Linked DNA regions of Homo sapiens. The protein of the gene in region 7 purifies or fractionates together with the protein of the main gene of each other region. This does not show direct contact. Each region holds a gene or a part of one and is shown on either strand. Other genes may lie near its edges.

Region 1 (4,257 bases), on a different chromosome or scaffold from region 7:
TACAGCGCAAGCAAGCCAGGACAGGAGAAGAGCGAGAAGAAGAGGAAGAAGAGCAGATCAGTGAGAGTGAGAGTGAAGATGAAGAGAACGAGATCATTTACAACCCCAAAAACCTGCCACTTGGCTGGGATGGCAAAGTAAGTCTCAGCACTACCACTTTCTCCCCATTCCCCATTTTGGAAACAGATACAGAGTTTAGTAGGCTAACACTTCTTGGTTTTGTTTTGTTTTTTTCTTTTTTAGCCTATTCCCTACTGGCTGTATAAGCTTCATGGCCTAAATATCAACTACAACTGTGAGATTTGTGGAAACTACACCTACCGAGGGCCCAAAGCCTTCCAGCGACACTTTGCTGTAAGGAATTCAGAGCCATTTTTCCTGGGAATTGAAGTAAAAACATGAGACTTTTAGAGAAAAGAGTAGGAGCAGCCTATGTGGACCACTGGTGTCCAGAGCTGAAGGGAATCAGAGAAGGATGGTTTTAAAATCAAGCCCATGGCATTTGACTTTTGGCACCAATGTTAGTCTTAAATACCTGAGATAGTTTCTGGAGGAATTCTACCGCACCACTCTTTGAACCTTATTTGGTTTTCTCTTGCCTGCTCTTAAACTTCTCTGTTTTTGTCTTTCTGCTAGCATTTTAGACCAATTTCTGACTTCTTGGTTATTTCTCTACCCCATTGCTAATACTCAAGATAAAAAATAGGGCTGACTGATCTCTTTCAGATCTTAAATGGATCTTTGCCTCTTGAGAAAATAAAAAATGAAGGGGCTGATATTTATCAAGCCATTCTTGAGACAGGGTATTGTCCGGATGATACTGCTGTAAGTGGGCTCACCTCTAAGTGGGCTCTACTTAGAGTTCTTAGATTTTGGAAGGAAATTTTACAGAAAGGAAAACATTTATGCTAGACCAAGGATGACAAATTTATATGAACTCCTCTCCCCCTCTCTGAGTCATACATATTACTAATTGATAATGGGTCTTTTTTGCTGAGCCCATGAGTGAGTTCTGAATCCTTCTCAGCACCTCCTACAATGATTGGAGTTGGCATCCAGGATAAAGCCCATGCCATTTACCATCCCTTAGTTAAAACTGCCATCATGTCAGTGTATAATCTCCCTGCTCTCTCCTCACCACATCATTGTGCCTAATAAAAGTCTTCTCCTTTACCTACAAAGATGATGCTGACCTGCCATTAGTAACCCCTATTCATGCAGGTGTTTGGAGTTGCTGGGGCTTTGGTAAGTTCTCCTGCAATATGGGAGATGTAGTGAGAGTTGTGATGTTTTTCTGTGATCTTGACCCAGAGGTTTTATGTATAAGACTACTGGGTCTAGAATCTAGGTTTACAAGCCAACCCAGTGAGGCAAACAATGCAGTGCTGCTTTGAAATACCACCCTTTTGTCAGTCACAGCCAGCTGTTTACAAACATGAATCACAAAAGGAATGCTACCTTTAGGTGGAGTCTTGCAAAGGGCCATGTTAGGATTTATGAGTAGAATGGAGTTAGTGCTCTGTGTTCAGCTATTCCCATTTCACATGATCCTTTTGCTTCTCTCTTCTCCCAGGAATGGCGTCATGCTCATGGCATGAGGTGTTTGGGCATCCCAAACACTGCTCACTTTGCTAATGTGACACAGATTGAAGATGCTGTCTCCTGTAAGTAAGATTTATTTACTGTCTCCTAGGCGAGTACAAATGGCTCTACTCCTTCAATTCAGCATCCTAATACCCTGTGTATCCAGGGTTAAAGGCAGTAGGTTGTGGATATGTAAAATCTAGGACAGTTGTATAATTATTGCATTTCTGTTTTTTGTTTTGTGTTTTTTTGTTTTGTTTTGAGATGGATGGAGTCTCGCTCTGTCGCCAGGCTGGAGTGTAATGGTGCAGTCTTGGCCCACTGCAACCTCTGCCTCCCGGGCGCAAGCGATTCTCCTGCCTCAGCCTACCGAGTAGCTGGGACTACAGGCACGTGCCACCACACCTGGCTAATTTTTTTTTTTTTTTTTTTTTTTTTTTTTTTTTGTGACGGAGTCTCACTCTGTCGCCCAGGTTGGAGTGCAGTGGCATGATCTCGGCTCACTGCAAGTTCCACCTCCTGGGTTCATGCCATTCTCCTGCCTCAGCCTCCCGGTAGCTGGGACTACAGGCGCCCGCCACCACACTTGGCTAATTTTTTGTGTTTTTAGTAGAGACAGGGTTTCACAGTGTTAGCCAGGATGGTCTTGATCTCCTGACCTCATGATCCGCCCGCCTTGGCCTCCCAAAGTGCTGGGATTACAGGCATGAGCCGCCACACCTGGCTAATTTTTTGTATTTTTAGTAGAGACGGGGTTTCACTGTGTGAGCCAGGATGGCCTTGAACTCCCGACCTCAGGTGATCCGCCCACTTCAGCCTCCCAAAGTGCTGGGATTATAGGCGTGAGCCACCATGCCCAGCCTTTGTTTCTGAGACGAGTCTCACTCTGTCACCAGGCTGGAGTGCAGTGGCACGATCTTGGCTCCTGCAACCTCCGTCTCCTGGGCTCAAGCAATTCTCCTGCCTCAGCCTCCCTAGTACCTGGGATTACAGGCATGTGCCACCATGCCCAGCTAATTTTTCTATTTTTAGTAGAGATGGGCTTTCATCATGTTGGCCAGGCTGGTTGAGGTGACGAACTCCTGACCTCAAGTGATCCACCCATGTTGGCCTCCCAAAGTGCTGGGATAACAGGCGTGAGCCACCGCGCCTAATTATTGCATTTTTTTTTTTTTTTTTTTTTTTTTTGAGATGGAGTTTCGCTCATATTGCCCAGGCTGGAGTGCAATGGTGCGATCTCGGCTCACTGCAACCTGTGCCTCCTGGGTTCAAGCGATTCTCCTGCCTCAGCCTCCCGAGTAGCTGGGATTACAAGTATGCGCCACCATGCCTGGCTAATTTTGTACTTTTAGTAGAGACGGGTTTCTCCATGTTGGTCAGGCTGGTCTTGAACTCCTGACCTCAGGTGATCTGCCCACCTCGGCCTCCCAAAGTGCTGCGATTACAGGCGTGATCCACCGTGCCCAGCTAATTATTGCATTTTTAAGAGAAATGAATTAGTCGGCAATACTGATTGTTTCTCCTTTGAGAAGAGCTCTGTGCTGAGTATAAACCAGGGCTTTTAGCCTGGGTCTGTGAACTCCCTTTTATGCAAGATTTTGATTGAATGGTTGTATGGATAGTTTTCTGAATTGATTTTAATGTGTTAAATAATGACTGATATAAAGGAAAATATAGAAGTACCCTCAGTAAGCTTGTGTTAGAGGCTATAGAAACACAGCAGCAAAATACCTCTTGAAGAAAGTGAAGCGGAGTGCATGTCAGGGAATGTGCTGCTGAAGCACATAGAGGACCACCGCCAGGCTTCCTGTTTTCCCAGCAGTAGTAGCTTTCTCTGCCATTAACATTTTCATGGCAGCCTTTTCTTTTCTTCTTTTTTTTTAATTTAATTTAATTAATTAATTTATTTATTTATTTTTTTGAGACAGAGTCTTGCTCTGTCACCCAAGCTGGAGTGCAGTAGCGTGATCTCAGCTCACTGCAACCTCCACCTCCTGGTTCCAAGCGATTCTCCTGCCTCAGCCTCCCGAGTAGCTGGAATTACAAGCGCTCGCCACCACGCCTGGCTAATTTTTTTGTATTTTTAGTAGAGACGGGGTTTTAGCATGTTGGCCAGGCTGGTCTCAAACTCCTGATCTCAGGTGACCTACCTGCCTTGGCTTCCCAAAGTACTGGGATTACAGGCGTTAGCCACCGCGCCCATCCCGGCTTTTTATATTCTTTTCAGTGGATCTATGTCACATTTCACTGTTGGCTGATTAGACAGAAGTAAGGTATTTTACCCCCCCATCCCACCCCCCACTGTTAAATTACAGGCACTTTACTCTCAGTTATGTTTAGCAGGCTGTTCAGCTGTTTGGTCAGCTTGAACCTTGGGCTTCCAACTCTGTTGCCCAGGCTGGAGTGCAGTTGTGCCATCACAGCTCACTGCAATCTCTGCCTCCCAGGCTCAAGTGATCCTCCCACTTCAGATTCCCAAGCTGATGGGACTACAGGCTTGTGCCACCATGCCTGGCTAATTTTTGTATTTTTTGTAAAGATGGTGTGTCACCATGTTGCCCAGGCTGGTCTTAAAGTCCTGTACTCAAGCAATCTGCCTGTCTCAGCCTCCGAAAGTGCTGGGATTGCAGGCGTGATCCCCGCCCAACATGCAACATGCTACAACCTGTCATT
Region 2 (4,257 bases), on a different chromosome or scaffold from region 7:
ATCAGAGGAAACTAGGGTTAAGATTAGGATCAGAGTGATTGCCGATGCTACAGAGTGATTGTCGGAAGTCCTGTCCGCGGCGGTGGCTGGTCTGGCCCTGAGTGCCCTACAGCTGGTGGAAGGAGGGGAGACAGAGGCCAGGGATTGCAGTCTTGCCTGTGGAGCAGTGCCTGGATCCTGGGATTGGCTGGTGGGCTTCCTGGGCACTAGGATTTACTTAAAAATTTTTAGCATTTTATTTTGAAATAATTATAGATTCACAGCAAGTTGCAAAGATAATAATGAGAAGTTCCATAGTGCCAGGATTTTTTTAAAGTATTATACCTCCAGGCTGGGCCCAGTGGCTCACACCTGTATTCCTAGCACTTTTGGAGGCCAAAATGGGAGGATCGTGTGAGCCCAGGAGTTCAAGACCAGCCTGGGCAACATAATGAGACACCAGCTCTACAAAAAGATAAAAAATATTAGCTGGGCATGGTGGTGCACAGCTGTAGTCACACCTAGTTGGGAGGCTGAGACTGGAGAAGGATCACTTGAGCCCAGGAGGTAGTGGCTGCAGTGAGCCATGATTGCACCACTGCACTCCAGCCTGGGTGACAGAGCGAGACCCTGTCTCTAAAAAACAAAAAAACCCAAAGTCCCCAGACTCTCCAGCTGACTCCCTCGTGCCAAGTTGAGAACTGCTGGCATGAAACTTGGTCCTTGTCTTTGGCCCGTCCTGCGTGGGGTGGGATGGATTGAGGTCACCTGCAGCTCGGATCCATCTGCCCAGGACTCCCACCTGTGGTCATCTCCTGCTTCCACTCCTCCGTGGAACAGGAAACTCTTCTTTCTGCACAGCTGTGTCGAGATAAAGGGTCCATATGCCCCTGTGGCTTCCACTTCCTGCCTCCTTTGGTGGAGCCTGAACCATCCGAATCCCGTCCCTCTCTTCTCTCGCAGATGCAGCTGCCATCTTGCTGGATGAGCAGAACAAGCGGCCCTGCAGGAAGTTTCTACTGACAGGTAAAGTCCTCTGCACAGCTCAGGTCCCTGCGGGGACCTGCGATATCCAGCCTGCCCCACTTGGACCTCTGCAGAGTGTCTTCCCCGACCCGGGCCACCATCCCAAGCCCACTTTGCAGCAGTGGCTCCAGCTGACTGGCCAGTCAGGGCCTTCCCAAGTGTGTCTCAGGACCTCCTAGAGTCTGGTCCTCAGCTCTTCAGATCTAGAATGTGATTATATCAGCTCACCTAGAACAAGCAAGGCGTGGGAGATTACATGTAAATCCAAGAGACACTTATGGGTGGAATAGACTTGTTGATTAAGTTAGCCTGGGAACCTGGCCTCCTTCCCAGCAGGCAGAACTTCAGAGAGTAACAGGGTTGATGATCTGAGGAAGTTCAGGATCAGAACCAAGGATGCTAGGTGTAGATTTGACTGCTCAGTACTCAGCTACTAGAGATGCATATAGGTCAGAGAGATAAAGGGCCGAGCATGGTGCCTCACTCTTGTAATCCCAGTACTTTGGGAGGCTGAGGTGGAAGGAATGCTTGAGGCCAGGAGTTTGAGACCAGCCTGGGCAACATAGCGAGACCCCATCTCTACCAAAAAAATTTTTTTTAATTAGCTGGGCATGGTAGCACACACTGGTAGTCCCAGCTACTAGGGAGGTTGAGGCAGGAGGATCACTTGAGCCCAGGAGTTCAAGGCTGCAGTGAGCTATGATTGCACCACTGCACTCCCACCTGGGCAACAGAGTGAGGACCCTGTCTCTTTTAAAAAAAGACAGAGCAAGAGGTAAAACCTCAGTAAGTGAAGGAACCAAAGACAGATACAAATAAGAGTAGGAAAAATAAGATAAAACCAAGAGAATAGTCTCCTCCATGCTTGCCCTTGAGGTCCTATGTATTCTCTAAGGGTTTGGCTCTGAGCTTCCTGGCAGCCATGGCAAAGAGGAAAACTATGATGATTCACATGGTTTGTAAGGGAGCTTAGCACTGGGGAGAGGTGCTGCAGCTGAACTAGGGAAACTGGGTGAATGTCCAAGCTCCCCTAGGATGGGCACCAAGCCTGCAGATCAGGGGCTTCCCTACAGACTTTGCCTTGATGTGAATATGTCACTGGTAGGTTATCCTGGCTTGAGACACCTCCAGCCTCCCAGTATCTCGACATACATTTTGGTCTCCTTGGTTGAAAGAGGGGAAGCCACCCCAGATTTTGGTGCCTCTTTGGCAAAGCTGCCACTGAAGCCTTTCTAAGGAGCAGTCCAATTGCTCCCGTGAGCCAGGTAGGCAGGCAGAATACTAGGCTGGGCATAGCACGTGCTGCGGCTTGGAGTGGAGAAAGGAAGCATTGCCCTTTCAGGAACCCATATGTAGTTCATCGAGGCAGGGCTGGGAGGGCTGGTGACAGAGACAGCCTGCAGAGGCTTGCGAGGCCCAGTCATGACAGGCTTCAGTTGGAAGTGATCCCCAGCATGGGGGGCAGCTGGAGAAGGGTCGTGAGCATGTGGCATGATAGGTGAGAAGTCGCTCTGGCTGCTGAATGGGCAGGGCCGGAGAGATTCCATTTTCTGTCCCGGATCAGGGTTGCTATTCTTTAGGCCCTGAAGTCCTGCCCCTAAGATTCTGGGATCCCTCATCTGGGCACCCCTCAGCCCCTGTGGGGAGCCCCTCCCGAGCAGCGAGTAACTCTGTCTTCCTGCTGCAGGCCAGTGCGACTTTGGCTCCAACTGCAGATTTTCCCACATGTCAGAGCGAGACCTGCAGGAGCTGAGCATCCAGGTGGAGGGTACGTCTCGGGATGCCCTGGGCTAAGCGGGAGTGGGGTGCTGGGGCATGTGGGCTCTGAGACCGGGGAAGCTGGCCTATGCCTCCCTATCTCCCCATCATTGGCAACCAAGGGCCACCCAGGGTGATGCGGAGCCCTGAGCCCCCGGTTTGGGCCAGGTGTTAGGAACAGCTTCAGCATGAGTGGAGAAGGCAGGCCTGTGTCCCCTTACAGTGGAGCCTGTGTGGCTTCCTGCCTGGGAGCCCTGAAGGTGCACCTCAGCCCCACCTGGACCCTGTGGCCAGCCCAGCAGTCATTGGTGGGTACACCCCATCCCTTCCTCAATCAGGCAGCATACCCAGTCCCCACTTGGCACCAAGCAGACCCCTTACGACAGTCTAGGGATAAGGAGTTTAGGAACGCACCTTCCCTGCCCTCTGGAGTCTCACAGCCTGGTGATTCCAGGGAGGGGCAAGTTCAGCTTCCATGGAAACTGACATCTCGCCTTTGGGAAATTCACTCCTCTAGTTAGAGAACAAGGAAGTTCTGACTGAGATGGTGTTTATCAATCTTCTTCCACAGCCTCTCACTGAACAGGTGGGGAAACTAAGGCCAACATTCAGACTGAAAGGCCTCGCGTGAGCCCCCCAGCAGGTTGGGGGCAGACTCCAGGTCTCTCAGTGCCTGCCCCCTTAAGCTTCTCTGTCCAGGAGGCCTCAGGGTAGCCAGTGAAGGTCTGGGGCAGCTTGGCCTTTGCCCTGATCCCCCTACGGGCCTCACTCCCCTCTGACCAGTTAGACACTGCAGGCTCCGTGCCCTGCCCTGGGAGCCAGTGGTGCTGTGGCTGCAGCCCCGGGACCAACACAGGGTTTCCAGGAGCATTTTTCCCCAGGGTGGAAGCAAGGCCTTGTGGGACTGGCCAGCAAGTCCTGGCAGCAGCGGCAGCTGCAGCTCTTCCCTGGCTATGGGCTCTCAGAGGACGGCTGGCCCATGGTGGGACGAGCACGGGGCAGTGGGCCTGGAACTGGAGACGATGCCGAGCGGGGACAGGAATGGGGAGAGGCCCAGGGAGGCTGGGAACAGAGTCCCAGCTGGCAGCTCTGACAGTCCCAGCTCTGCCACGTCCTCTGTAACCTTGGTACGTGGCTTAACCTCTTGGAGGCTGTGTCCTGTCGAATGTGATGTCTCTAAGGATGAAGCAAGATGACACCTGTACAGCCCAGGGCCCGGCCCCAAGTGAGCTCCAGAGACCAGGGCCCGGCCCCGAGTGAGCTCCAGAGACCGAGGCCTGGCCCCGAGTGAGCTCCAGAGACTGGGGCCTGGCTCTGAGTGAGTGCTAGTCAAGTGTATGATTACTTTCCTCTGGCCCAAGACTCCATCCCAGATGACTTGGCGACTCTGACCCCATCAAACGCTCACACCCAGCTTGTATAAATTCCATTCGTTGATTGGTTTTAATTCGTTGAGCAACAGGTTTTGTTGGACAGCTTATGAGAATAAAAACC
Region 3 (4,257 bases), on a different chromosome or scaffold from region 7:
GCTAATGACCCCTCAGAGCTAGGACTATGCATCACAAGTAGGCCTGCGGAGGTGTGGGAAATGTCTATTAGTGTCCAACAAGATTGTGTCCCCATGATCTCCTGTATTTATGCAACATTCGTCCTGTACAGGTGCATGTGGATGTGCTATGTGTATGCACTGAGCCAGATGATGGGAAATCTTGAGGAGCAACCTTCCACCAGGAATCTTGTGTGGAATACAGACGAATAAACTGGCAATGGTGACACAGTGTGAGAGACCCCCAAAAGGGCAGGCAGAGGGTGCTCTGGGATTGTAAGGAAGATACCTACCCAAGTCCTTACTGGATGGGGCAGCAAGGGAGCTGGGTGGGCTTTGGAAAGCCAGGTGAGCACTAAAGAGTGAGCAGGATGCACCCAGGTGAAGCATGGGAATGGGAGCAAGGTAGCAGAGGGGTCTTTTAGAAGCCAAGCAGCAGCATGGCTCAAAATCAGGAAGTAAGAGAGCGCATGGCATTTCTAGGAACTGCAGGAAACTCAGTCCAGTTTGTGCTCAGAGGGAGAGGTGGGAGGTGGCAAGACACGGCCCAGGGCCAGGCACTCTCAGAGTTTGACTTCATGCTGAAGCCAGGGGGCCTTCATTGCTGAGTTTTCCTTCTAAGGGTGGAAATGATCAGGACCTCTTACAGGGCTGTCTTGGGTGTTTAGTGCCACAACTGCAATAATAAAAAAAAGATTCTTGCTCCTCAAAAATGCCTGATTCTGCATCCAGTCATCTTGGCAGGCAGAACTAAAGGAAGCACTTTGGTCCTCTTTTCTTAGCCATAAAAACCAGGTCTTGGTGTCCTAATGTTATTAAAATCCTCATAGGCTGAGAAGATGCATTTTGGGCCTCAGAGCATGTCAAAAATTACATAATTTTTCCAGCCTAATTCTAGCTCAGTGGGCTCAACTTTCATGGCAATTGAGAATTACCTAGAAAGTTTTAAAAGAAATGCTGATGCCTGGGGCACCCTCAGGGATTCTGATTCAATTGTCTGGAGCCAAGCTGGGCATTGGTATTTTTTAGAGCTCGCCAGGTGATCCCCAGGGCAGCCAGGGTTGAGAATCACTGTAGAATGTGCAGCCTAGCAACGGAAACTCTTGAGAAAGGAATGGACGCCTCTTGCCAAGTACTCCAGCCGAGTAGATTCTGGGTCAACTTTTCAAATCTTCCTGGCCGATCATCAAAGCAGCCTGTGGCAACTGCTGAGACCTCTTGGTGCTCCTCCCACTCCCCCCAACCACCTTTTACAGGTAGATGTAAAGAGCCTTGTTCTAAAGCCATTATAGGGGGCTGGAGAGGAGGGCTACCTCACCCATGCCTGGCACCTCACGGCATCATCTGGCTTCCTGAGCCACATTGTCTGTGCAGCACTAAGAAGCTTTGTCAGGGATTTTTTTCTTTCTTGCATTTACCCGGAAATTCCAAGCAGGCCTCATTAGCACATTACTCACACACAGCCAATCCCACATATCACCTTCCTCCTCACCCCCACCTCCAGGCTTTTTTTTTCCCCCCATTTGCCCATTTATCCACTGCAGTTAGGTTTTGTTTCCTGTGCCCTGAAAAGCACACTTTTGGAATGGAAATGCTGCTGGAAGAACAGGTGTGGCTATGAGCTCCATGATCACGGCCGATCACCCCTCATTGCCCTCCTAATGAAATCCCATCCATCAGGAGCAGAGAGCAACAAGCCCTCTAAATACTTCCCAAGGCACTGCCCTGTGTTGTTCCTTCTGTACTGAGACAGCAAATCGTTAGCTGGAGCTCCCAGGTTGTTTCTTGCAGCAATTAACAGCTGCCCTGTTGTTAATTCCCGATCAATAGTCCCGAGATGCTGCTGCTCTTACAGCTGTCAGGCTGACAGCCTCTACAGCACATTTTGAAAGTAACTTGCCAGTGGTGGGACTTTCTTCTCCCTGGGCACACCCAAGAAAAGTTCTCAATCAGGCTTCAGAAGAGCACCAAGTGCCCCTCACCCGGTGTAGGGGCCTAGCGGCAGTGTGAGCAAGAAGGTGGCTCCACCCCCCTCTTCTGGTCAGGTGATAACTTGGGGAGACTGTGGAACCGAGGCCCCCCACCACCACAGTAGCAGCCCCTTGAGATATTCATGAAGCTCTCATTTTTCAATTTTGGCTTGTTTGGAACTTTTTTCTGTTTGAGATGGCTATATATTTCTTCCATCTAAAACCCTCCTACAAATCCATCTTTTTATTTTTTTTCTAACTCAAATAGCCAGTTTCTCATTTCTTGTGTGTGTTGCTCCCTCCAGCTCCCTGTGGACAGAATGAGACCCGAGAGGATGGTAAAATAATCCAGCTGCCTCCCTGCAAGACAGGAGCTTGGATCGTGCCGGCCATCATGGCCTGCTACCTCTTAGTGGCAAACATCTTGCTGGTCAACCTCCTCATTGCTGTCTTTAAGTAAGTGGGTCCTTTGGAGCACGTGGGATGGATGAGGACAGCAGGGGTGAAGGGGAGTCGATGCTTCAGAAAACAGTGGGTTTTTCTCACTTGATTCTCTTTGGTCTCTATTTTAGCAATACATTTTTTGAAGTAAAATCGATATCCAACCAAGTCTGGAAGTTTCAGAGGTATCAGCTCATCATGACTTTCCATGAAAGGCCAGTTCTGCCCCCACCACTGATCATCTTCAGCCACATGACCATGATATTCCAGCACCTGTGCTGCCGATGGAGGAAACACGAGAGCGACCCGGATGAAAGGGACTACGGCCTGAGTAAGCTTCAAGCGACAGCCGAGCTGCCACAAATCAGAAATCCCTACCACTTCCTATAGGCAATCACGCAGAATCGCATGCCCACCTAGTTCCTCCTACCTCTTGCAGGCTGCAGACAGCTCTGAAGGCTTGGAGAGCATTGGGGGATGAGGGAGTTGACTTGAATGAGAAATAATGTCAGAAAGAAGATGGTAGAGGCTGAAATTGAGCACTCTTAGCCTCATGTCTTTCTTAGAGAGATACAATCAGTCTCCAGCAGGGCTATTTTAGAACCTTCATAAGTTCTAAGTTTCTTGCTTTCCAGAGATCTCAACCCAAAATACATCAATGATATTAATATGCCACCCAAGGCTACATTATATATAATTTAAGCAATAACTTCTGGACCTATAATTTTTTCTGATCTTAAACATTTTCCTAAACCTTAGGGGTTGTGCCTAGATTGCCTCATGAGAAGACCAGCCCAGCTTTCTGTTACTCGGAGGACAAAACAGAAGACCCTTCACCATCCACCTTCCAGCCCAGTGTTTCTAAAAGGAGGTTCTATTAGCATTGAGGCAGAACAATTCCTTGTTGTGTAGGATTGTGCCACACACTGCAGGAGGTTTGGCATATCCAGCCTCCACACATTAAATACTGGTGACTCCCACAGATTCCTAAATACCCTTTGGGTACCACGCTCCATTAAGAACCACTGGGAATCCAATCCCATACCAGCAAGCTCCTATGGTTTCTCAAAGTGTGTCAAACAGGCCACCTACATCAAATCTACTGAACAAGAGCCTCTGGGATTATAGCCCAGGAGTCTACTTCCCTCTGTGTGGTCACCAGTATATCTAAGGTTTGAAACCAAAACGATTTGGTCAACAGCTTCTCTAAATCTGAAGCTCTTAACACCCTCCCTGACCTTGCAATGCCCAACTTCTTTCTAGACATTTACATTAGAGAGACCTGGGAATTCCAGAATTCACTGCTTCCATCTGAAACACAAATTTAAGCAAAGAGAAAAGTTGGAGGGGTCGGGGTGGATGACCTATGAAATAAACCCTAAGCTTCTCGACTCAGGAACTCTAGCCAATGTGGAGGAGCATGGGATACAAAATCAGGGGCAGCGGGATGCTCTAATGAATGATAGCCTGCAGTGGATAACATGCTGAGGGCTAGCTCAGAGTCCCAAAATAATTTACAATACAGCATGAGTCATTTGTGGTAGAAGAGGAACCTCACTTATCCAGAGAGCTTAGGAAGGTGGTGTTTGTAAATACAATGCAGGAAGTAGGATGGTCCAGAGATCCATTTCCTTTCCAGTGCCCACCCCCTCAAAGAAGGCCAGAGAACCTGAATAAGCCAGACATTGGGCTAGATGGGAGCCAGCTCCATGCAGTTGCTGTTCAGGGTTTTCTTGTCGTTATCACCAATGGTAGCAACGAAAGCATTGCCAGGTTACTGGATGCTCAGAAGGGAGGAACAGCCATGTCTGCTTTCTCAGAGAAGAAA
Region 4 (4,257 bases), on a different chromosome or scaffold from region 7:
TAGTTAGGATATGACCACTTGGTTTTGACCAGATGGACATAAGATTCAATAACTGGAAAGGGAATCGTTTACATTTTCATAGTTATATAAGGGGTGAAAAGAGAACTATAATTTCTTACCCTGAATGGCAGAGTAAGGGGTAAAAATCACCGAAATGCTATTTTTACTGGACTAAAAATATATCTTAAAAAATGAAAAGGGTTTTTTATGTAGTTGCTAGTTTATGAATATTACTGACAGATTTTTTGGTCTTTTTTTGCCTATAGGTGCTAATGTCTCTTCATGAAATGTTCCCAGCAGTACATGCAGCAGAAATGGCCGTCCAGCAAAATCCACATTCATGGGAGTCTTGGCAGACTTTGGGACGTGCTCAACTTGGTTTAGGAGAGATAATCCTGGTGAGGAAGTCAGATTATTATAATGCAGAAATTTTAAGTATATTTTGACTTTTTTTTTTTTTTGAGATGGAGTCTTGATGTCACCCAGGGTACAGTGCAGTGGTGCAATCTCAGCTCACGGCAACCTCCGCCTCCTGGGTTCAAGCGATTCTCCTGTCTCAGCCTCCTGTGTAGCTGGGACTATAGGCATGCGCCACCATGCCTGGCTAATGTTTTTGTATTTTTAGTAGAGACGGGGTGTCACCATGTTAGTCAGGCTGGTCTTTAACTTTTGACCTCAAATGATTCTCCAGCCTCGGCCTCCCAAAGTGCTGGGATTACAGGCGTGAGCCAACATGCCCAGTCTATTTTGACATATTTTTGATTAACTGAACCCAAAAGTGAATAGCCGTTTATCAAGTCTATACAAAAAACAATTAGCAAATTACTTCTTAAAGGTATTAATCCATAAACACAGTTCACAGGTATTACTGAACATCTTTTTTATTATAGACACTAATTATATCATGATCAGAATATTTTTCAGTTACTTGACATCATGGATATTAAAAAAAATTTAACATAAAACATTGGCATTTGGTAAACCTTATTTAAATAGACAATAGGCAACTTTTTGGCTTAGTTCTTTGGATCATTACATTTACCACATTATAAAGTGGTATTAGTATCACTGTGGAGACAAAACCGCTGATAGATTATACAGGGGAAGGAAGACAGTAGAATATGGGAGGGTAATGGTGATGAACATTTAGACTGAAAAGTTGTTAGGCTTATTGAGGGGATAAAGAGGAAGAGTAGAAATGTGTGCAAATGAAATACTCATTGTGTAATGTTTACCGTAAACTGGTACCTAATGCATCTCTCAATTTGTCTGGACTATACCTTGTTAGTAGCAGAGGCTATCTAGGTAAGAATTAGCTGTGACAGCTGTCCTGTTGTTTTTCTTTTGGCAGGGCTATATACACCTGATAGCTAACGAAATTTAACTTCCTAACAAGTGTTTGCAAATCTAATATACAGTGCCAAATTTCCTCCTTGTTATTAAGTAAATTAAGATTTTAAAAATGGTTTTATTTTTTACAGTTCAAAATAAAACATTTTAAAAGTTTCTTGCAAGACTAAAATTACTGATAAATTCAAAATATAAACTTACTAACAGTGGTTTTAGTAAATTGTGGATGACTGAGCTTTTTTTCTGGCATTCTTATAAATGTATCATTATTTCTACTTACCAAAAAAGGTGTTTGTCAAATTCTCAGAAATAGTAAGGAATTTGTATGAGAAAATAATTGATTTGATTAAAGTAAGTTAATGATAATCTAAATGAGATTCACAGTGATAGAAACCATTTTAACCAAGTACTGTTTTTTTCTTGCCATTTAGCACTGTCAACTTCTCTCTTTTTACATGAAGACTTAAATCATACCAGAGTTGGAAAAAAGAGTTCAAAGAATTTAGTTTTCTAACATTAACAGGGGAAGAAAACCCTATCATATAATACTTTTTCCTTGCCTCCCTTATTAAAAATTTATACATCACTATCTCTTTTGCCAATAGTGTCTATGGTAATGGAACAAATCTCTAGGACATAATATTTAGTAAAGATTGTCCTTTATAAAGAAAGAAAATACACTGCAGGTGAGACGGAGATACTTTGAATCATCCAATAAAAATAATTTAATATTTAAATTTTTTTGAATAAGAGTACCAGTTCGACTTTTTTTTTTTCTGTTGATATGGCTCTATTCATTAATACTGTGAAATTCTTAGAAGAATTGAAAGTATTTTTTTTTTGCCATTTAAATGTAATTTTTAGGAATCTTCTCTGTTTTTATGTAGATTTAAGCTGTTCTCTTAAAAGACTAGAATGGTAAAAAAAAAAGATGACTCAAAATGTCATAACGAAGGGACACTATGTAAAATATATTGAAAGCAAGCTAGAATTTCTAATATCTAACAATTCTTACTATATATACATATGGACTAAAACCATAGGAAATTATGTATGTAAATAGCACAGGCAGTAAATTAAAAGTCAGTAGTTGGGTATATCTCCATGAATAATTATTTAAACTTTGTAAGAGTTGGATGTGAACATTGGAAAATGTTTATAGGAGATATATATATATAAAATATGTATGTATATGGTATACATTTTATATATATATACGTGTGTGTGTGTGTATATATATATATATATAAAAGACTTTATGAGAATGAGATTTTAAGAAGTGGAAGGATGAGAGAATAAGAAAGCTGAAGCCAGGCGCGGTGGCTCAAGTCTGTAATCCCAGCACTTTGGGAGGCCGAGGCGGGCGGATCACAAGGTCAGGAGATTGAGACCATCCTGGCTAACACGGTGAAACCCCGTCTCTACTAAAAATACAAAAAATTAGCTGGACGTGGTGGCGGGCGCCTGTAGTCCCAGCTGCTCGGGAGGCTGAGGCAGGAGAATGGCGTGAACCTGGGAGGCGGAGCTTGCAGTGAGCTGAGATCGCGCCACTGCACTCCAGCCTGGGTGACAGAGCAAGACCTGTCTCAAAAAAAAAAAAAAAAAAAAGCTGAAGAGAATGGTTCTGGGAGTTAAAAATTCTGTATGAGGGAATGGGGATGGTGAGAAAGGAATACATAAGGGATTTATCCTGAAGAAGAAGGTAGAGAGGGAAGGAGACTGGGAAAGGTAATGAATACCAGGAGGTAACAGTATCAGGAAGGATTCTTCTGTTGGCTTTCCAGGGTTCTCAGCCTTCAGTGCTGGAACTAGCTTTGTGGCTTCCCTTCTTCGGGCTCTGTGTAATTCATTGCCAGCTTTTGCTTTTCTTCATGCCAATGTGCAATAAATACTAATTTTGTTTACTAATGTTTTCTCTGTTTTCCAAGTCTCATTTTAGCCATTGGTTTTAATATTTTGCATGAGCAAATCTTTAATTAGAAATTTCAGTTGCATCATTTGATTCTTTTTATTGTTTCGCTTTTGTAATGGTAGTAATGGGATGGACAAGTGATAATTTCCAGACAAAAGGAAGATGATTGAGAGTTTTTAAAATTTCACTTGAGGGGCTGGGCATCCTGGCTCACGCGTATAATCTCAGCACTTTGGGAGGCTGAGGCAGAAGGATTGCTTGAGGCCAGGAGTTTGGACCAACCTGGGTAGCATGGCAAGATCCTATATTTACAAAAAAAAAAAAAAAAAATTTGGCTGGGCATGGTGGCTCATGCCTGTAATCCCAGCATGTTGGGAGGCTGAGGTGGGTTGATCACCTGAGGTCAGGAGTTTTGAGACCAGCCTGGCCAACATGGTGAAACGTCGTCTCTACTAAAAATACAAAAATTAGCCAGGCATGGTGGTGTGTGCCTGTAGTTCCAGCTACTCAGGAGGCAGGAGAATATCTTGAACCTGGCAGGTGGAGGTTGCAGTGAGCTGAGATCGCACCACTGCACTCCAGCATGAGTGACAGAGTGAGACTCCATCTCAAAAAAAAAAAAAAAAATCCACTTGTAAATTTTTAGTTTAGTTAATTACTGTAGACATTGTTTGAGTCAAGCTGCATTATCTTTTTTATAATTGAATAGTACAAATTCTTGAATTATAGTCTTTATAAATGTTGTATGTTGACACTTAAGAATTGAGTTTTTTTCTTGAAAAATAAAGTTTGTTTATGAGCTTTATTATTGTTCTGTTTTTTTTTGTTTGTTTGTTTTTTGTTTTTTTGAGATGGAGTCTCGCTCTGTTCCCCAGGCTGGAGTGCACTGGTGTGATCTCGGCTCACTTCAACCTCCACCTCCCGGGTTCAAGCCATTCTCGTTCCTCAGCCTCCCAAGTAGCTGGGACTATAGGCGTGTGCCACCATGTCTGGCT
Region 5 (4,257 bases), on a different chromosome or scaffold from region 7:
TCTTCCTTGAATGTCTGGTAGAATCTGACTGTGAATCCTTCTGGTCCTGGGCTTTTTTTTGTTGGTGGTAATATTTTTTAATTACTGACTCAATCTCACTGCTTTTTATTGGTTTGGTCAGGATTTCTGTTTCTTCCTGATTCAGTCTAGGAGGGTTGTGTGTTTCCAGGAATTTATCCATTTCTACTAGATGTTCTAGTTTGTGTGCATAGAGGTGTTCATAGTAGTCTCAAAGGATCTTTTGTATTTCTGTGGTGTTGCTTGTAATGTCTCCATTTTCCTTTCTAATTGAACTAATATAGAATCTTCTTTTCTTGTCTAATCTAGCTAATGATCTATGAATTTAGTTTATCTTTTCAAAAACCACCTTTTTTTTCATTGATCTTTTGCAGTTTCTTTTGTTTCAATTTCATTTAGTTCTGCTCTGATCTTTGTTATTTCTTTTATGCTAGCTTTGGGTTTAATCTGTTCTTTTTTTTTTTTTTTTTGAGACAGAGTCTCATTCTGTTGCCCAGGGAGTGCAGTGGTGCGATCTCAGCTCACTGCAACCTCTGCCTCCCGGGTTCAAGCAATTTTCCTGCCTCAGCTCTCCTGAATAGCTGGGATTACAGGCGTGTGTCACCACGCCCAGCTAATTTTTGTACTTTTGTTAGAAGCAGGATTTCACCATGTTGACCAGGCTCGTCTTGAACTCCTGGACTCAAGCGATCTGCCCACCCCAGCCTCTCAAAGTGCTGGGATTATAGGTATGAGCCACCGCGCCCAGCCTCATTTGGTCTGTTCTTGTTCCTCTAGTTCCTTGAGGTGTGACATTAGGTTGTCAATTTGTGATCTTTCAGACTTTTCTCTCTCTCTCTCTCTCTCTTTTTTAAATAGAGATGAGGTCTTGCTATGTTATCCAGGCTGGTCTTGAACTCCTGAGCTCAAGCAATCCTCCTGCCTTGGCCTTTCAAAGTGCTGGGGTTATAGGCGTGAGTCACCATGCCTGGCTCAAGACTTCTTGATGTAGGCATTTAACACTATAAATTTTTCCTCTTAGCACTGCTTTTGCTGTATCCCAGAGGTTTTGATAACTTGTGTCACTATTATTTATTTTGAAGAATTTTTAAATTTCCAGTGATTTCATTGTTAACCCAAAAATCATTTAGAAGCAGATTGTTTAATTTCCATGTATTTGTATAGTTTTGAAGGTTCCTTTTCAAGTTGGTTTCTAGTTTTATTCGACTGTGGTCTGAGAAGATACTTGATATGATTTCAATTTTTTTAAATTTGAGATTTGTTTTGTGGTCTATCATATGGTCTATCTTGGAGAATATTTCAGGCACTGATGAGAAGATTGTATATTCTGCAGTTCTGGAGTAGATGTTCTGTAAATATGTTAGTTGATTTGTTCTGGAGTATAGTATAGGTCCAGTGTTTGTTGACTTTCTGCCTTGATGATCTGTTTGCTGTTGTCAGTGGAGTGTGAAGTCTTCCACTATCATTGTGTTGCTGTCTTTCTCTTTTGTTAGGTCTGGTAGTAGTTGTTTTATGAATCTGGGAGCTCCAGTTTTAGGTGCATATATATTTAGGATTGTAATATCTTCTTGTTGGGTTGATCCTTTTATAATTATATAATAGCCTTCTTTGTCTTTTTTTCAGTGTTGTTGCTTTAAATTCTATTTTATTTGATATAAGAAAAGCTACTGCTGCTTGCATTTGGCTTCCATTTGTATGGAATATCTTTTTCCACTCCTTTACCTTTAGTCTATAAGAAGCCTCACATGTTAAGTGAGTCTCTTGAAGATGGCAGATATTTGGTTTGCGATTTATTTATTTATTTATTTATTTATTGAGACGGAATCTCGCTCTGTAGCTCAGGCTGGAGTGCAGTGGTGTGATCTCAGCTCACTGTAACCTCTGCCTCCCGGGTTCAAGTGATTCTCCTGCCTCAGCCTCCCGAGTAGCTGGGACTACAGGCACACACCACCACACTTGGCTAATTTTTGTATTTTTAGTAGAGATTTTGCAACGTTAGCCAGACTGGTCTTGAATTCCTGACCTCAGGTGATCCACCCACCTCAGCCTCCCCAAGTGCTGGGATTACAGGTGTGAGCCACTGCGCCCAGCCTGTGATTTTTTTTTTTTTTTTGAGTGGAGTATTTAGACCATTTACATTGAATGTTAATATTGAGATGTGAGGTACTGTTACAGTCATCATGTTGATTGTTACCTAGATACTTTTCTTCCTTCATTACATTATTGTTTTATAGGCCCTGTGAGTTTTATGCTTTCAAGAGGTTCTATTCTGGTGCATGCCAACCTTTTGTTTTAAGATTTAGAACTCCTTTTTGCATTTCTTGTAGGTCTGGTCTGGTAGTGACAAATTCCCTCAGCATGTGCTTGTCTGAAAAAGACTTTATTTCTCTTTCATTCATGAAACTTAGTTTTGTTGGATACAAAATTCTTGACTAATGTTTATTCTGCTTAAGGAGGCTAACAATAGGACCCCAATCCCTTCTGCAGTTGTAAGGTTTCTGGAGAGAAATTCTTGTGAATAAAACAATCCATCTTTTCTTTTTAGCTTCCACCAACACTTTCTTCCAAATATCCTGAAGATGACCCAGACTACTGTGTGTGGGTCCCACCTGAAGGTAGATTGTTTTTACTTTTTTTTCCTCTAAGGTTCATTTATTTATATTTTTGAATAGGTAATATAGATTTAAGGTTCAACATAAGAAAGTTACAAGAGTATGTAGTGATAATTTGTATACCATGTTTGGATCCTTATTCAAACAAACAACTGTTTAAAAAAATTATTAGCCAGTCAGATAATTTTGAACACTACCTGGATATTTGATGATACTAAGAAATTATTTTTTATTTTTTTAAAGTGTGAATGATGTTGAGTTATGTTTTTTGGAAAAAGTCCTTGTCTTCTAGGAATATATACGGAAGTGTTTACAGGTGTAATGTTATCTGGGTTTTACCAAGTCAAAAGAAAGGAAAACAATTCTGGCTGTGCCTCAGCTACTCGGTTGTTTTCCTCACAAGACAACCAATTGTTGTTAGTTTCTTATGGATACTTATATATAAAATGCTAAGTAGAGAGGAGCATCTATAGAAAAAAAATCATAAAAGTTAACCTGCTGGATCAAAGGTATAAACATTTTAAAGATATTATAAATTGCATTCTATAGAGATTGTACCAGTTTTATGCTCATACACACACCCTTAAAGCAATGTATGAGATACTTACTTCCTCATATGTTCATCACAGCTTGAGATTTCTAATATATTAGTAACTAATATAATTTAGTTACTTGAGATGTCTGCTTTTTCTATGCTAACAAATGTTAGGGTAGAAATGAAAGAGGGCTGTATTTTGAAATTTCATACAAAAAGTAAAATTTCTACCGTAGAATAAACCTTTTTGTCTATTTTACTTTTTGGCCTACTGATATCTGGATATCTTTTCTCTCCTGACTTTGGAAGAGTAAATAATGTATTTCTTTTTTTATATTCTGATCTAGGTCAAAGTGGAGATGGCAGAACCCATCTTAATGACAAGTATGGCTATTGATTGCTTCAGAATCCCAAAAGAAAACCTTGTGGACCATGTGACATGGAATATTTGGGATAATGTATCAAATTGAATGGCCAGAGAAGTTTAGATGATTATTTGTAAGATCTGGTGACTGGCTTTTCGTTCTGTGTTCTTGGCTTCCTAAATTTATCTGCCCATATGATTCTCATGCATTTGATATTTATGTTTAAAAGTGTTTATATATGTATGTAAAAAGGGAACCATATGTTTTGAGAATTTGTAAAGTGAGAGACATGATCCTATTAAAATAAGAAGGCAAAAATGTTCCTAATATTTTATTTTATTTTATTTTTTTTAAGAGACAGGGTCTTACTCTGTCACCTAGGCTGGGGTACAGTGGTGCAATCCTAGCTCACTGTAGCCTTGAACTCCTGGGCTCAAGCAATCCTCCCACCTCAGCCTCCCAAGTACCTGGGACTATAGGCATGTACCACCACCACACCTGGCTAATTATTTTATTTAAATTTTTTGGAGAGATGAAGTCTTGCCATGTTGCCCAGGCTTGTCTTGAACTCCTGGCCTCAAGTGATCCTCCTGCCTCAGCCTCCCAAAGCACTGGAACCTCATTTTTTTTTCTTTTTTTCTGAGACAGGGTCTCACTCTGTTGCCCAGAGTGAGTGCAGTGGCATGATCACAGCTTACTGCAGTGGCATGATCACAGCTTACTGCAG
Region 6 (4,257 bases), on a different chromosome or scaffold from region 7:
TCAGCCTCCTGAGTAGCTGGGACTAGAGGCACACACCACCATGCCCAGTTAATTTATTTTTATATTTTTTTGTAGAGTTAGGGTCTTTTCTTGTTGCCCAGGCTCAAATCAACTAAATTTTCATGTCTTTCAGTCTTTCTTGTTACTCAGAGGACAAAGTCTAGGTTTGGTGCTCATGTACCTTTTACACCTCTCCAGCACTTGCTACCCCTTTGAACTAAGAGAATTAGTCTCAGCAAACTTCCAGCTAAACTTTGACAGTATTACTTTGTTTTCATTATGTTCACTTTTGACTACCTTTTGTTGGTAAAGGCATACTGATTTTTTTTTATTTGAAGTAGTAATATGTATTCTCCATCTTAAATAGATTTTTTTTAAAGTAAATTTTATTAAAAGAAATGAGCGATAGCCTAGATGGTTTTGGAAATGGCAGAACTGGAAAAGGAGCTAAGGAATGACTGGGTTCAGGGAAACCCTGTGGCAGAGGTGGCCTGGTTCAAGCTGAATGAGGCAGATGGCACTGATCGCCAATGCCAGGAAGCTAGAGGAGGACGTCTGCTGAGGGATGGGCTGGTTTGAGCAGTGGGTGGTGGCAAGAAGGACGTTCCAATGGGCAGTGTTCTAGATCACAGCAGGCACAAGGGAGTGGTGTTTATTCTTGTTGTTTTTTCTTCCTCCAGAAACGGGCCTGAATTTGAAGCTAGGATCCGACAGAACGAGATCAACAACCCCAAGTTCAACTTTCTGAACCCCAATGACCCTTACCATGCCTACTACCGCCACAAGGTCAGCGAGTTCAAGGAAGGGAAGGCTCAGGAGCCGTCCGCCGCCATCCCCAAGGTCATGCAGCAGCAGCAGCAGACCACCCAGCAGCAGCTGCCCCAGAAGGTTTGGAGCCCAGTGCCCCCTTCACTTACGCAGGGCTTGAGAGGGAAACAGGGATAGGGAGGGAGTACACAATTAACTCCAAATCTCACAACCACCCAGGGAGAGAAGTGAGGTCGTTATCCCCATCTCTCAGAGGCAGACCGAGGCCCAGACAGCAAAGTACTGATGTTAGTTGGCATTTCCCGAGCACTGCTTGTCAAGCTCTGTGCTTGGTACTTCAGGAGTCTTGTCTCATTGACTCCTCACAGAGGCTGTATGAGGAACCTGAGAGTTGGGGGACGTGTGATTTATTCAAGGCCTTGCTCAGGGTGTGAGGGCAGTGCCGTGATGTGAGGGCAGCACTTCCTACTTGGCTGTGCTGAAGGATGCAGTGTGGCCTGTGGGCTCCTCCTTGTGCCATCCCTTCCCTTCTATCTCTTCTTCCCAGGACCCCTCCATCCTGGCCTCCCCTGATACCACCTTCCCTGTGCTGAGGCCCAGCACTAGGGACTATTAGGATTATGAATGAAGAGAGAGGCTGACATGTTTTTCCTCCTGTCCAGACCTGCCTTCTGCACTCCTGAACCATGGTGGAAAAGGCAGTCCCTCCTTTTGCAGTGGGCTATAAAGGTTGAAGTCAGGTTCTAAGACCTTGCGTTGCAATGAGGCCTAGGACCTCAGGCTACCTCAGTTTCTTCATCTGTAAAGAGGATTCACAGTACCTGTGCTACCTCATCGTTCATGCGGAGGTCATGGAAACACTTTGTACAGTGGGGTTTTCTGCACACATGTAGGCCTTCTGCACATCCATCCCTCTTGGATGGGATTTAATAAGTCCTATTCTTGTTGGATCTTCTGTCACCCAGTTTTGGCCCTCAATTTCAAGGCAGGAGCAGAGATACAGAGGGGAATGGTTCTCACTCAGCCATTCAGGAAGTTGAGGCCATAGTTGGCTGGGAAGTCAATGCTCTTGTGATTTAGAATTCTCTCACACCAAGTGCTAGTGGTGTGTGCATAATTAACAGAAGTCTAGAGGTTCACAGCATCCTGCTGAGGGGTGCATGCCCATGTCCCCTCCCCTCCCCTCCCCTGGAGCCTGTTCACCCCTGTGCCTCTCGCCTCATACTCCCTTTGCATCTTAGGTCCAAGCCCAAGTAATCCAAGAGACCATCGTGCCCAAAGAGCCTCCTCCTGAGTTTGAGTTCATTGCTGATCCTCCCTCTATCTCAGCCTTCGACTTGGATGTGGTGAAGCTGACGGCTCAGTTTGTGGCCAGGAATGGGCGCCAGTTTCTGACCCAGCTGATGCAGAAAGAGCAGCGCAACTACCAGTTTGACTTTCTCCGCCCACAGCACAGCCTCTTCAACTACTTCACGAAGCTAGTGGAACAGTACACCAAGGTGCCTGGGCAGGATGGGGCTGGGGTCCTGGGCCCAGGAAAGGAAAACATCTTATGCTTGGAAGCACTGTGTCCACTCACTGTCTACAAGGACATCGCTTCTCCATGGGGCCTCTGAGCAAATGTTTTGAATCCCAGTTTAATGTAAAACCTTGATTTCTATTCAGTTATTTCTTTAAGTGCAACACAGACTGCCGGTTTCTAAAGAGAAGGGAAATACATGCTTGCTAACTACCATTAGGCGATTGCCTGCTATGTGACAAGGCCACGTGGTGCTTGCTGCTTTTAAGTGCATTTCCGTTTTCAGTTGCCTAGTAAGGCCCTGAGAAGAAGCCAACCTTTAAGAGTTGCCTCCTTTTACCTAACTTAGTCCTCACAAGAAGCCATGAGGTGTTTTCCCCCCATGTTTGAGAAGCAGAAACAGGCTCAGAAAGGTGAAGTCACGTACTCAAGGTCTGTCAGCTAGTAAGTACTATGCTGAGATTTAAACCACATTTGACCCTAAAACTTTGGTTCTTCAGCTTATAAAGTGCCTTAAATTGGAAACAGCATTTAAATAGGTGTTGAGAGACACTTTGATGTCATGTAAGTCAGTATAACTAACATCACTAAGAAATTATGTATGCAGCATCTTCTCATTTAATCTCCGGTAGCCTATAAGGTAGCCACTATTGCTATGTTCACTTTACAGAAGAGAAAATTGAGGTGCAGTGAAGTTAGCATGGCCAGGGTCACATAGCTAGGAGGTGGCAGGGCTGGGGCTTGAGCTCTGGCATTTTTACTCCAGACCCTAAGAACTCAATTATCATTTGACAGAGCTGCAATCAAGAATCAGGACAAGTCAGTTCTGGCATTTAAAATAATCAGATTATTAATTTATTGCAAAGTGCACTGACAGCTTTGCCTGTGGCACATTTTTCTTGCTACACATGTCATGGAGGTTGTTTTCCTTCCCTTTACAGTGGGATGGTCTGTACATCTCTTCTTCATATCCAGAAACAACACCTCAAAGATCTGACTTGAAAGGACTTGAGAATTTCCTAACTCTACTCACTTTTAAGTACATAATTAGAATTTTAACAATGTGTGTGTTTAGAAAATGACCAAATCCAGAAGCTAGTATGGTAGCTAAAATAACAGTCATTCAAGGCCCAAGGCCCAAGGGTTTCTATAAATATGCAATATCAATTTTAAATGAACCCTGGATTAATTTCTCCCAGTGGACTGCTTCCAGGGTTAAAGGTCCCAGATCACTTTTTATTCTGTTACTTTCCTGTTTTTTCTTCAGAACTTGGGTATTGGCATTTACCACTGTAACTTGAGGTTCCTGCTGTCTGTTCTAGCCATGGAAGACTGAGCAGATAGATTCTTGGGGTAGAGGTGGAAGGAGGATTGGGATAGGGCCGAGCCACTTTGCCAGTGGCAGTAGAAGCTGTTGGGGCTGTTTAGAACAAAGGCAGCATTTGTTCTCTCAGTAAGTATACATTGTCAGACATTATTCAGGGGGCTGGAGATGTAATCGTGAACAAAAGAGAAATCCCTGTCTTCATGGAGTTTCTAGTCTAGTGAGGAGGAGTCAAGTGCATTGTCAGTGTCTGTTACATGGTGCTAAATACTACAGAGAGAAAGCAGGGAGCAGAAATAGAGGGAGGTGGGGCAAGTACGCTGCGGTTCTGAATAGGATAGTCAGGGGGGACCTGCGTAGTGTTTTTGAAAGGATGAGAGCAGGTCAGTGTCATGAAAGCAGCCGTCTCATACTGACCGTGTTCTGGGTAATCGGCTAGTGCTTTGCATGCTTTCCTGCTAATCCTCGAAGCCACCTTTTTAAGTTCATGGTGCCAACTTTGAGTGGTGGTGCCATTATTTTGGAGAAGGAAATCAAGTTACTGAGGTTAAGTAACTTGCCCTAAGTCCCACAGCCAAGTGGAGCTGGGATTGGGACACAGAATCCCATGCTTCCTCATCTCCTGTGCTTTATCACAGGCCCAGGA
Region 7 (4,257 bases):
GCAGTGGCGTGACCTCAGCTCACTGCAACCTCCGCCTCCCAGGCTCAAGTGATCCTCCCACCTCAGCCTTCCGAGTAGCTAGGACTACAGGCGCACACCACCACGCCTGGATAACTTTTGTATTTTCTGTAGAGACGGAGTTTCACCATGTTGCCCAGGCTAGTCTCGAACTCCTGAGCTCAAGCAATCCACCCGCCTCAGCCTCCCAAAGTGCTGGGATTACAGGCATGAGCTACCGTGCCCGGCCCATAGCTGAGACGTTCTATTCAAATAGAAAATTTACCAGATCACATTGCAAAATATTTAAAATAGTCTTATAATAGTTTCAATAATAGTAATACTTAGTATATTTGAGTATATATACCATGTCCTAGTTCGTAAAAGGGGGTATTAGTGAATATAAAACACAATGCTAGGCCGGGCATGGTGGCTCACACCTATAATCCTAGCACTTTGGGAGGCTGAGGCGGGTGGATCACTTGAGGTCAGGAGTTCTAGACCAGCCTGGCCAAGACGGTGAAACCCCGTCACTACTAAAAATACAAAAATTAGCCAGGTGTGGTGGCACGTGCCTGTAATCCCAGCTACTTGGGAGGCTGAGACAGGAGAATCGCTTGAACCCAGGAGGCAGAGGTTGCAGTGAGCCGAGATGACGCCACTGCACTCCAGCCTAGGCGACAGAGCAAGACTCTGTCTAAAAAAAAACGAACAAACAAACAAACGAAAAAACCCAAAAAACAATGCTAGATGAAATCATAAACATTTAGCAGAAGCTAAAATATGACATGACCAGTGGTAATTAGCATTTAGGAGAAAATTCTAACTTTTTAATAAGGCAAAGGAGGTTCTGCAATATGCCAGTAAATTTCTACCTAATTGGCATTTGAACAAGTTGTACCTATGTTTAACAGACAGTCTTATCTTCCCTAGCCCCTTAAAGCATTACATAAGACTCGTATGTCTAGTTGCTTATTTGTGGTGCTCAAAACAGAACTCTTGTCCTCTACACTCCCTGGCCCACATCCACCTGAATGCTCCCTCAGTGAATAGTGTTGCCAGTCTATCTGTCTATTCAAACTAAAAACCTAAAAATATGACTTGAATTCCTCTCTCTCTCCTTGTCCTCTGGTCAACATGGTGAAACCCTGTCTGTACTAAAAACACAAAAAATTAGCCGGGTGTGGTGATGGGCGCCTGTAGTCCCAGCTACTCAGGAGGCTGAGGCAGAAGAATCGCTTGAACCCGGGAGGCAGAGGTTTCAGTAAAGTAAAAATGATCTGTTAAAAAAGTCTGGTGCAGTGGTTCACACGAGCACTTTGGGAGGCCGAGGCGGGTGGATCCCTGGAGGTCAGGAGCTCGAGACCAGCCTGGCCAACATGGTGAAACCCTGTCTCTACTAAAAATACAAAAATTAGCTGGGCGTGGTAGCAGGCACCTGTAATCCCAGCTACTCGGGGGGCTGAGGCATATGAATTGCTTGAACCCAGGAGGCAGAGGTTGCAGTAAGCAGAGATCACGCCACTGCACTCCAGCCTGGGCGACAGCATGAGACTCCATCTCAAAAAAATTTTTTTTTTAAATGAATGATCTGTTAAAAGGTACAGATATAAATGAGACAGAGTCATTCCCTGCTTAAACCCCTTCAATGGCTTCCCATTATAGGAAACATAAAATCCAAACTCCTCCTTCAAATCCAGGAAGCCCTACATGATCTGACTCTGCTTACCCTCCACTGCCCCTTCTCCCTCAGCAACCTCCTCCACTGCCCCCTCTCCCTCAGCAACCTCCTCCACTGCCCCCTCTCCCTCAGCAACCTCCTCCACTGCCCCCTCTCCCTCAGCAACCTCCTCCACTGCCCTTCTCTCCTTTGGACTCTAGATTTCAGGTTCCCTGGCCTTTTTTCAGCCTTCAAGCTTCAGGCTTCTTCTTGCTGAGATCTCTCCACTCAGGTGTCAGCTCAAACATCACCTCCTCAGAAATTTCCTTGAGCAGGCAATCTATAGAAGCACAACTCTATTCTCATTACTCTATCACATCACTCTGCTTTATTTCTTTCTTTTTTTTTTTTTTTTTTTGAGACGAAGTCTAGTTCTATTGCCCAGGTTGGAGTGCAGTGGCTCAAGCTTGGCTCACTGAAACCTCTGCCTCCCGGTTCAAGTGATTCTTCTGCCTCAGACTCCTGAGTAGCTGGGACTACAGGCGCCCATCACCACGCCTGGCTAATTTTTTGTATTTTTAGTACAGACGGGGTTTCACCATGTTGACCAGGCTGGCCTCGAACTCCTGACCTCGTGATCCTCTCGCCTCAGCCTCCCAAAGTGCTGGGATTACAGGCGTGAGCCACCACGCCTGGCCTGCTTTATTTCTTTATAGCACTTAATATGATCACATTTTGAATGATCTGTTTTGCTTATCATCTCACACTCCCATATAAAAAACTAGCTCAATGAGAGCAAAGACTGTGTCTTTCACTGCTCTGTCTCTGTCCGCTAGCGAAGTGTCTAGCATACAGCAGGAACACATACTGCTGATTCTTTTTTATAAGCTTAGAATCTATTTCATTTCCCTCATTTCTCCTTGAAGTCTCACAGATTTCCTCTGAAACAAAAGCATTCAAAAGAGGCCTTAGCTGTTACTGAATTCCTGAAAGACCTCAGTTGAGGAACACTCTACTGTTAAAATGGGAATTAATTCCTCTCTATAAAAAAATGACAAGTTCCAAACAATTTTTCTGCCCCCTAAAAACCTAGCATGAACTTGCCTCATCTGGAAAGAAGTGCTCAAATAAAGGTGTTTAAAATCTGCACTGAAATTAACTGATGGCCTAAGATACAAAAAACAAAGATCGTGGAGGCTGCTTCTGCCCCATATTGACTACAATGAAGACACATGCATTTTTCCCAATTATAAGGTGATTATCCAATTTTATGCTATTTAAATTTAGCTGTATTACAAAAAAGACAAATCCTGATGAATCAGTCAAGGGAAGATGAGCTGTGATACCTCTGAAATAAATATACTGTCAAGGAATAGCAGCAAAACATACCAAATCAATCCTTAAAAAAGAATCCTGGAAGATAGAGAAGATACATACACACATATGCCTCACAGATTTTTTTTTTTTTTTAAATAAGCAACTGTGTGTTAGCTACAATTATCTTCATAGCCTAAGTGGAAGAGGAAGTCAAGATTTAATACAAATAACAAAAACTGTTTCCTAGTTCCTCAATATTTGAGTTCCTGATTTCTTTAAATCCTCTAATTCTTGCTGACATGTCATAAGCAGTTCTCTTATGACCTAAATAAATGTGGAAACAAAACAAAGTATTATTCTCTAAAGAAGTCAACTCATATACAGCAGAACCTCAGAAGAACATAACTTGCTATAAAGCAAGGGCTAGCTGCCTGTTTTGTAAATAAAGCTTTCCTGGAACACAGCCATACCCATTCATCTACATATTATCGATGGCTGCTTTCAGGGTACACTGGCAGAGTTGGATGTTTGCCACAGAGACCAAACCATAAAGCCTAAAATATTTACCATCTGGCCCTTTACAACATTTGCCAATGCCCAGTATAAAGGGTAAATAGGGTAAAGCTGAAGAAAACTTTAAGGAATCTGCCACTGCACGGACCCGAAGAAGAGCATCAGAAGGGAACTCTGGTGTTATGTCTAAACTGAAATATGATTCTTTCCAAACAAACAATGAAATGACAAGAAAAAGAGAAAAAAAAAACCCAAACTCTGACATGCCTACTGATTATTCTTCAAACTCATCACACAGCACATCCCATGACAGGAATCACCTCTTTTTCTTTCTTCTCCTGTCGTTTCTGCTCCTCCTCTTCTCTCTCTTTCCTCTGCTGTTCTTCCCATTGTTCCTTTAACTTTCTCTTTAAAGGGGAAGAAAAAGTAACTTTGTTTCAGTCACTTTTTAAAAACATTTCACATACAGCGCACATAGATGAAAAACTTAAAACACTGGCAAACTGAATAAGATCAGTTTTTTGTTTTTTTTTTTTAAGTTCAAGATAGGCAACTCTTTTTTTTTTTTCTTTTTGAGATGGAGTTCCGCTCTTGCTGCCCAGGCTGGAGTGCAATGGCGTGATCTCAGCTCACTCCAACCTCCCAAGATAGGCAACTCTTCATGAGAGTTATTATGGTGAAGTAATCAGTTTGTTCACTAGTTACGTGATTCCTACCATACCTCTTGTTCTTCTTGCCGTTTTTTAGCCGCCTCTTCCTTTTCCTTCTTT

Evidence for each region.
Region 1: the proteins of ZRSR2 (region 7) and SF3A3 purify together in Homo sapiens (affinity purification with mass spectrometry; 3 studies listed by BioGRID and IntAct, with this or other methods). This does not show direct contact.
Region 2: the proteins of ZRSR2 (region 7) and ZMAT5 purify together in Homo sapiens (affinity purification with mass spectrometry; 3 studies listed by BioGRID and IntAct, with this or other methods). This does not show direct contact.
Region 3: the proteins of ZRSR2 (region 7) and TRPM3 purify together in Homo sapiens (affinity purification with mass spectrometry; 3 studies listed by BioGRID and IntAct, with this or other methods). This does not show direct contact.
Region 4: the proteins of ZRSR2 (region 7) and TTC33 purify together in Homo sapiens (affinity purification with mass spectrometry; 3 studies listed by BioGRID and IntAct, with this or other methods). This does not show direct contact.
Region 5: the proteins of ZRSR2 (region 7) and SLC4A1AP purify together in Homo sapiens (affinity purification with mass spectrometry; 3 studies listed by BioGRID and IntAct, with this or other methods). This does not show direct contact.
Region 6: the proteins of ZRSR2 (region 7) and SF3A1 purify together in Homo sapiens (affinity purification with mass spectrometry; 3 studies listed by BioGRID and IntAct, with this or other methods). This does not show direct contact.

What each region holds. Positions count from the first base shown.
Region 1 is NC_000001.11:37,965,451-37,969,707, reverse strand, and holds part of SF3A3 (splicing factor 3A subunit 3), read left to right. Parts: coding exon 1-137; intron 138-243; coding exon 244-354; intron 355-1,573; coding exon 1,574-1,664; intron 1,665-4,257. UniProt on the Homo sapiens protein: Component of the 17S U2 SnRNP complex of the spliceosome, a large ribonucleoprotein complex that removes introns from transcribed pre-mRNAs.
Region 2 is NC_000022.11:29,739,166-29,743,422, reverse strand, and holds part of ZMAT5 (zinc finger matrin-type protein 5), read left to right. Parts: intron 1-942; coding exon 943-1,005; intron 1,006-2,692; coding exon 2,693-2,773; intron 2,774-4,257.
Region 3 is NC_000009.12:70,551,347-70,555,603, reverse strand, and holds part of TRPM3 (transient receptor potential cation channel subfamily M member 3), read left to right. Parts: intron 1-2,293; coding exon 2,294-2,444; intron 2,445-2,560; coding exon 2,561-2,760; intron 2,761-4,257. UniProt on the Homo sapiens protein: Constitutively active, non-selective divalent cation-conducting channel that is permeable to Ca(2+), Mn(2+), and Mg(2+), with a high permeability for Ca(2+).
Region 4 is NC_000005.10:40,724,486-40,728,742, reverse strand, and holds part of TTC33 (tetratricopeptide repeat protein 33), read left to right. Parts: intron 1-266; coding exon 267-398; intron 399-4,257.
Region 5 is NC_000002.12:27,691,122-27,695,378, forward strand, and holds the end of SLC4A1AP (kanadaptin), read left to right. Parts: intron 1-2,563; coding exon 2,564-2,633; intron 2,634-3,512; coding exon 3,513-3,562; 3' UTR 3,563-3,848; downstream 3,849-4,257.
Region 6 is NC_000022.11:30,342,943-30,347,199, reverse strand, and holds part of SF3A1 (splicing factor 3A subunit 1), read left to right. Parts: intron 1-680; coding exon 681-888; intron 889-2,009; coding exon 2,010-2,267; intron 2,268-4,257. UniProt on the Homo sapiens protein: Component of the 17S U2 SnRNP complex of the spliceosome, a large ribonucleoprotein complex that removes introns from transcribed pre-mRNAs.
Region 7 is NC_000023.11:15,803,748-15,808,004, reverse strand, and holds part of ZRSR2 (U2 small nuclear ribonucleoprotein auxiliary factor 35 kDa subunit-related protein 2), read right to left. Parts: coding exon 4,209-4,257; intron 3,895-4,208; coding exon 3,808-3,894; intron 1-3,807. UniProt on the Homo sapiens protein: Pre-mRNA-binding protein required for splicing of both U2- and U12-type introns. Selectively interacts with the 3'-splice site of U2- and U12-type pre-mRNAs and promotes different steps in U2 and U12 intron splicing.